Linked DNA regions of Homo sapiens. The protein of the gene in region 1 purifies or fractionates together with the protein of each later gene. This does not show direct contact. Each region holds a gene or a part of one and is shown in the gene's direction. Other genes may lie near its edges.

The links.
Region 2: the proteins of CCNL2 (region 1) and CNTN1 purify together in Homo sapiens (affinity purification with mass spectrometry; 3 studies listed by BioGRID and IntAct, with this or other methods). This does not show direct contact.

Annotation. Positions count from the first base shown.
Region 1 is NC_000001.11:1,396,536-1,400,742, reverse strand, and holds the start of CCNL2 (cyclin-L2), read left to right. Parts: upstream 1-1,407; 5' UTR 1,408-1,436; coding exon 1,437-1,724; intron 1,725-2,071; coding exon 2,072-2,146; intron 2,147-2,324; coding exon of another isoform or gene 2,325-2,400; coding exon 2,401-2,510; intron 2,511-4,207. UniProt on the Homo sapiens protein: Involved in pre-mRNA splicing. May induce cell death, possibly by acting on the transcription and RNA processing of apoptosis-related factors.
Region 2 is NC_000012.12:40,933,439-40,936,938, forward strand, and holds part of CNTN1 (contactin-1 isoform 1 precursor), read left to right. Parts: intron 1-22; coding exon 23-122; intron 123-258; coding exon 259-440; intron 441-3,342; coding exon 3,343-3,467; intron 3,468-3,500. UniProt on the Homo sapiens protein: Contactins mediate cell surface interactions during nervous system development.

The DNA of each region.
Region 1 (4,207 bases):
GTCACAGCTCAGGGAATGGGCAAGCAGCACCAATGAGAAACCAGCTGTGTGGTGGGGTTTCCAGAGAAGAGGAAATTCCTTCTTTCCTGGAGAGCGTGCAGCTGTAACTCACAGACGAGACATCCCTGAGCTACCAGCCTGGGGAAAGAGGACATGAGTAAAGCTGTAACCATACCGTGTTACCCATAACAGGCGGTGAGGAGAGTGGGTTTTGGTTGGCACTGTTTGAGCTGCAGTATCAAGTCATGGCAGAGCTAGTGGACAGCTGACCTGGGGGTGGGGGTGAGGAGCAATGGTGGCTTCTGAATTTGAGCCCGTCTGAGCTGGGCAGTTACTGGCAGCTCAGTGTGTGAACCTGCAACCACTCAGGCCTCTGCTGCCCTTCCCTCTTCCTGCCTCACCGTTCCCTGCCCCACGCAGGCTTCCCCACCATCCTCACCCGTGGTCCTGTACTAGTCCTGGCAAAGGTTCCGGTAACTGCAGCAACAGATACCTCCTGCCCCTCCTGCACAGCTGTGGTCGATCGCAGGACAGCCGCAGGTGATGAAAAACCGTGAACCCAGGACGGGCAGGGCGTGAGACCGCCTGCGGGAGGATCAGCGATGTCAAGACGTTACAAACGCACGAACCCCCTCGCCGTCTCCCTGGCGTTTGTGAGGTCCTGTCCAAGCTCCTTCACACGTAGATCACCGGGCCTCGCTCCCCCGACTCCTTCCGTGGGCCTGAACCTTGAGGTACTTAGGCCTCCCCACGCTGGAGGGGCTCTGTAGGGACGTCGAGGCCACGTTTCCAGTCATCCCTCCACCCGTCTCTCCCCAGGGGCTGAGTGTTGAAGGCAAGACTTTGCAGGAGTCTGGCGTTAATACGCATCCCCAAAGTCTGGAGTCGATAAGGACTGAAGACACGACGCCGACGGCGGCCGGGGGACACCGGGCATGCGCGTCTCATCCAGGGGGAGGCCGAGCGGAGCCTCTGACCCTGCCCCGCGCCCAGGGTTCAGCAGTGGGGGTCGTCCCGCCCCAGATCCCACCGAGATGGCCCCCCTTGACCCACAGGCCTTTCGAGACGCGAGCTTCCGCGATCCGGGGTCTCTGTGCGAACGTGGGCATCTTGGAAGAGTCCCAGCCCCGCTCGGGGCGCACAGGCAGGCGCTCTCAGCACGGCACCCGCGCCTCCGCTAGGGACAGACATGCTTCCGGGTCGGCCGGCACCGCGGAGTCCCCTGGGTAACGAGCCCGCCCCACCCGCGCCAGGTTCCGGCGTCGGCGTTAGGCGCGTTGCTGACGGGCAGGTTATGTAGCCAATTGCGGCTAGGCGGCGTCGCGCTGGTCGCGGGCCGAACCAATGGCACGCGACGGGGCGGGGCGGTGGCGGCCGTGGAGCTTCGCGAGGAGCCGCCCTGAGGGAAGAAGCCGAAGGGGAGTCGGCGGCACAAAATGGCGGCGGCGGCGGCGGCGGCTGGTGCTGCAGGGTCGGCAGCTCCCGCGGCAGCGGCCGGCGCCCCGGGATCTGGGGGCGCACCCTCAGGGTCGCAGGGGGTGCTGATCGGGGACAGGCTGTACTCCGGGGTGCTCATCACCTTGGAGAACTGCCTCCTGCCTGACGACAAGCTCCGTTTCACGCCGTCCATGTCGAGCGGCCTCGACACCGACACAGAGACCGACCTCCGCGTGGTGGGCTGCGAGCTCATCCAGGCGGCCGGTATCCTGCTCCGCCTGCCGCAGGTGAGGGCGCGGCCGCGAGCCTCCGGCCCAGGTAACCGCTGGGGCGGCAGCCGCCTTTGTTGGCGGCGAGTCGGGCCCGCACCGCCCCCGCCTAGACCCCGACCCCAGCCCCTGCCCCGACCCCAGCCTCGGCGCCATTCCCTAGCCAGCCCATGCCCCTGACCCGGGGCCTCCCCGCCCGCCAGTGCGCTGGATCCCGAGACGGCGGGACGCGAAGAGCCTTTGTGGACGTGGGAAGCGTTTCAGTGTTTGGTTCTGCGTGGGGAGTCCCACGTTACTCGATGACTTTCGGCCGCGAAGGCTTTGAATGGTGCGTTTGAAAATACGGAAACTTTCTTCTACTCTAGGTGGCCATGGCTACCGGGCAGGTGTTGTTCCAGCGGTTCTTTTATACCAAGTCCTTCGTGAAGCACTCCATGGAGGTAAGGCTTCCTCCTGCACTTCATTCCCAGCGAAGTATGTTGAGGGTAAAACGGTTTGTTACTTTGCCCGGTTACTAAGGGAGTGAGTACTTGCCCCCCAGTCTGAGCTCTGTGCCGGAGGGTTCTGTTTCTTGACTTTTTTTTTCCCCTGGGTGCACCTCCCTTTTGGTCTGAATAGCCCTCAAGCCTTTGGCGGCCGTCAGGACGCCGTGGCTGGGGACAAACATGGGCGTGTTGCAATGCTTCCGCTTCAGCATGTGTCAATGGCCTGTGTCCACCTGGCTTCCAAGATAGAAGAGGCCCCAAGACGCATACGGGACGTCATCAATGTGTTTCACCGCCTTCGACAGCTGAGAGACAAAAAGTGAGTCAGTCAGAGCTGTCTAGTCTATCATAGATGCCTATTTTCTTTATTTCTGATTAAGTTACAGTAAGGCTTGTATAACACAATACAGGCCTGAGGCTCTAAACCTGTGGGATATTCATGAGCGCAGTCTCAAGCTCCACCAACAGAGCCTGCTCAGAGGCATCAGTAGATGCGGTTTAGTAAGGGCAGGGGCTCCAGTGAGGACAGTGCGCTGTGGCGGGTCGCGCTGGGGCTGGCTTCCTGCTTTACCCATGTCAGTGCACGGCCCTGCTGCTGCTTCTGTCCCACAAGTTTCTGAGTGCTCTGGAGCAGGGAATCTTAATCTCAGCACTATTGACATTCAGGCTGGATAATCTTTTTTTTCCTCCTGAGACAGGTTTCCTGTTGTCCAGGGCAGAGTGCGGTGGTATGATCATGGCTCACTACAGCCTCAACCTCCTAGGCTCAAGAGTTTCTCCTGCCTCAGCCTCCTGAGTAGCTGGGACTATAGGAGCACGCCAACCATGCCAGCTAATTTTTATTTTTTATTTGGTAAAGATGGGGTCATGCTGTGTTGCCCAGGCTGGTCTCAAATTCCTGGGCTCCAAGGATTTGCTGGCCTTAGCCTCCCAAAGCACTGGGATTACAGATTTCAGCCACCGCATCTGGCTGGGTAATCTTTAGTTGTAGGGGATTCTCCTGTGTGCTGCAGGATTCAGCAACATCCCTGGTCTCGACTCACTGGATGACAGGAGTACCCCACCTTAGATGTGACAGCCAGAAATTCTCTCATACCAGATGTGGGAGCTCACACCTGTCATCTCAGCACTTGGGAGACTGAAAAAGGAGGTTTGCTTGAGGCCAGGAGATTGAGGCTGCAGTGAGCTGTGATGTCACCACTGCACTCCAGCCTGGACAACAGGGTGAGGCCCTGTTTCCAAAAAAAACGAAAGTCTGTTGATGTTGCTTCATGGCCCTGGAATAGTAAAATTTCTCCAGCAGAGAACCGCTGCCTCTGACCTTAGCCCAGGGTTTATGCACCTGAAGTTAATTGAAGTCCTTTAGAAAACACAGCCTCTGGCCGGGCTGGCCTGTAATCCCAGCACGTTGGGAGGCCTAGGCAGGTGGATCACCTAAGGTCAGGAGTTCGAGACCAGCCTAACCAATATGGTGAAACCCTGTCCCTATTAAGAACACAAAAATTGGCCAGGTGCAGTGGCTCACGCCTGTAATCCCAGCACTTTGGGAGGCCGAGGCGGGTGGATCACGAGGTCAGGAGATCGAGACCATCCTGGCTAACACGGTGAAACCCCGTCTACTAAAAATACAAAAAAGTTAGCCAGGCGTGGTGGCGGGTGCCTGTGGTCCCAGCTACTTGGGAGGCTGAGGCAGGAGAATGGCGTGAACCCGGGAGGTGGAGCTTGCAGTGAGCTGAGATCGGGCCACTGCACTCCAGCCTGGGCGACAGAGCAAGACTCCGTCTCAAAAAAAAATAAAAAAAAAATTAGCCGGGTGTGGTTGCGGGTGCCTGTAATCCCAGCTATTCGGGAGGGTGAGGCAGGAGAATCGCTGGAACCGGGGAGTTAGAGGTGCAGTGAGCTGAGATTGTGCCATTGCACTCCAGCCTGGGCAACAAAAGTGAAACTCTGTCTCAAAAAAAAAAAAAAAAAAAAAAAAAACAGCCTTGCCGAGCGCAGTGGCTCACGCCTATAGTC
Region 2 (3,500 bases), on another chromosome or scaffold:
TTTGTGTTTCTCTTAATATTAGGAACAACAAAACCATATCCTGCTGATATTGTAGTTCAGTTCAAGGATGTATATGCATTGATGGGCCAAAATGTGACCTTAGAATGTTTTGCACTTGGAAAGTAAGTATACTGACACTTTTATTAATATATATAGAAATAGTACCATTTTAGGAAATAAATAATTGTTTAGCTATAAACATAAAGTAATTGTCTTTTAAGTGTGTGAAACTTTAACCCTTGTATCTTCTATTTAAAGTCCTGTTCCGGATATCCGATGGCGGAAGGTTCTAGAACCAATGCCAAGCACTGCTGAGATTAGCACCTCTGGGGCTGTTCTTAAGATCTTCAATATTCAGCTAGAAGATGAAGGCATCTATGAATGTGAGGCTGAGAACATTAGAGGAAAGGATAAACATCAAGCAAGAATTTATGTTCAAGGTAGATACATTATTTTAATTTTGTATAAATTTCATCAGTATCTTATTTAGAGCCATTTCCATACATGAAAAACTACTATATAATGATTAATGGTTTTAAAAACAGTGATGCATGTTACATCATGGAGAAAGATAAAATATTTCTCATATGTCTAATGAAGTCACAACTATGAGTTATAGAAGTTACGAACTTATTACCAGTTGAACCATAGGTAATAGCAATAGATTGATAGAAGTGTTATTGGTAATTTTCAGAATATACACTTAATGTAGTTTGTTTACTCATTTTATCACTGTCTTTTTTCAGTATCTTTTTATTTATAGAAGAAGCTATGTGTTATGACTTAGTTTAAGTCAGTGGTTTGCAAACTTAAGCATGCATCAAAATCACATGGAGGGCTTGTTAAAACAGATTGCTGGGCCAAACTCTCAGAATTTTTCATTCAGAGGTCTGTTAGGGGCTCATGAATTTGTATTTTTAACAAATTCCCAAAGGATGCTGATAATATTGGTCCTGGAGTCACACTTTGAGAACCACTGGTTTAAGAAATCTTTTTTTTTTTTTTTGACAAAATTATCATGGCACAAACCTTTGATTTTCACACATTAAAATAAACTTACATTTGGGAAGACAGATTTTTTTTCAGGCCACACTGGAAACTTTCCAGACTGAAATAATTTCTATAATGTTCCACAACATGAACTTTGCAGGTCACAAGTGAATAAACATCGAGGGCTTCCACAATATTATTCGTTTTTAACTCTGGCTACTGTCCCATTTCACTTTCTCCCGTCTCTCCCAAAAAGGAATAAAAAATTTGACAGATTCACGCATTCTCTCTAAAAGTGTTGTCTCCATCTCCAGTTTTTCTTCTCTCTTAATTGCACTCCAACATGATTTGCATCTCTGCCTCTCCACAGAAACCTTTCTTTTCATGACCACAGACTTCCATATTGCTAAAGCTAATGATCAATTCTCAGTTGTACTTTTTTTTGATCTAACAGCAGTGGTTGCCACAGTTGGTCCCTCCCTTCTTCATGATTCACTTTCTGCACTTCATGTCTGCAACCTACTTTGTTATTAATTTCCTTGTATAATCTTTCATTCTCCATTGCCTTTCAACTCCATACTTTTCTAACATTGGTGTGATCAGGGTTCCATCTGTGAACCCCATCTCCATTTCAGTCACTCCATTTATGATCCCACTCGTGATCATGGCTTTAGACACACTCTGTACCCTGAATGCTCTAACCCAAACATTTACTCTGAACTTCAGACTCGTATGTCCAATGCCACAGTAACATTAATGCAATACATATCAAGTCTGCATGAAATGGCCTCCTAAAAGGAAGAAAATACTAGGTAAGGTCCTTTAAACTTTTGAAATAAATCCACCACTTTCTACTAGGTTTCTAAAGCTTATAGACCTGTTTTTATTCAACATATTAAGAAAACTACACTCCAGGTTCTCAACAGAGTAAAATTTTGAACTGTCTAATATCTAAAGCCTTAGAAGAACCAAGGTGACAGAGCACATATTTACAGAAGGTAATTTAAGAGAAATATTATTTATTCTTTACTAATGCAGCATACTAAGTATTATCTTTAGGTCTGATCACATCACTAGAAGGTTACATAATTAAGCCATATATAGACTGTGTCAAGCCAATTCAATTATTCATTACATGATGTAATAGAAAATGTCTGTGTTGTCTTTGTGAGGCCAAGACAGGAAGGGTGCTGATATTCCTGTATTATGTATTGCTAAGATTGTATACAAAATAAAACCTTTCTCCCTTACAATGAACATATCCACCAATAGTTTAAAAAATATCTCCCTATGTTACAAATATAATGATGAGTGAAAACATGTACTAAATAAGATTATATATGCTTTAAGATATATAGGTGTACATATGTCTACATGTATAATGTATACATTATAATGTATAATGTTGATGGTATTTGGTGAGATAAAAATGTTTTCTAGTTTTTAAATTTCTAGTATTTTATTACTTGTTAAATGTTTTTTATAAGATGCATATATTGCTTTTGCCATAAAATTAACACAAGTTCCCAGTTTCAAAGAAAATTAAATATTATTCTCCACTCAGGATTCTTTCTTCCTACTTCCTTTTTGTATTAATTTATTTATCTGCATTTATTTGGACTAGATAACTGAAATAATCAAAAAGACTGTCAAATTGTTTATTTGCTTGTTCTCTAAAAATATTTTTTCTTTGGAAAATTTTTAGCATTTTCTCATTTTTATGGATGTCTCTTTAGCTATCAAGTAGATCAGACTAAAGAATGAGACTGAGATCAATTTTACCAATGCATGGATTTCACCAATCATGGCTACTGTATATAGTTTCTAATATGGAAAGAGTATATTTAGGTGTCCAAGTCATTTTTCTAGCGCCAAAGTGAGATGTTACCGTGGCCACTAGCTGAAAGTTCCATCAAAATGAAGATAATGTATACCTGAGGGAGTGGGAAAAATATCTGAGTCTTTATCCAAAATGTTAAGAGATGGTATCATATTGAATTGAGATGTAATTCTTTAAAACCTCAATTATCATTTTGACAGACTTGAAAGGTTTATGTTATGAGCAGAAAAAAATCAGTTATTTTAGTAATAATTATAACTCAGCTTTTCAACAAAACATGATTTACAAATGGAAAAATAATGGCTGAGTTATAGTTACCTCCTGCTGTAATAATACAGGATTTGCGTAGGTTAAGCCTATGCAAAGACAAGGCCTATTACTGAGTTCAGGATGCATACACTATCTGATGTATTCTGCAGAATTAGGTTAACTAAATGTAATATTTATACTCTGGAGATTATGATGGATCTTGAGCCCTTCATTTAACATTTACAATGTTCCTTACTTTTTAGCATTCCCTGAGTGGGTAGAACACATCAATGACACAGAGGTGGACATAGGCAGTGATCTCTACTGGCCTTGTGTGGCCACAGGAAAGCCCATCCCTACAATCCGATGGTTGAAAAATGGATATGCGGTATGTATGTTCAAGTGCTTTGCTGTTCCTGAG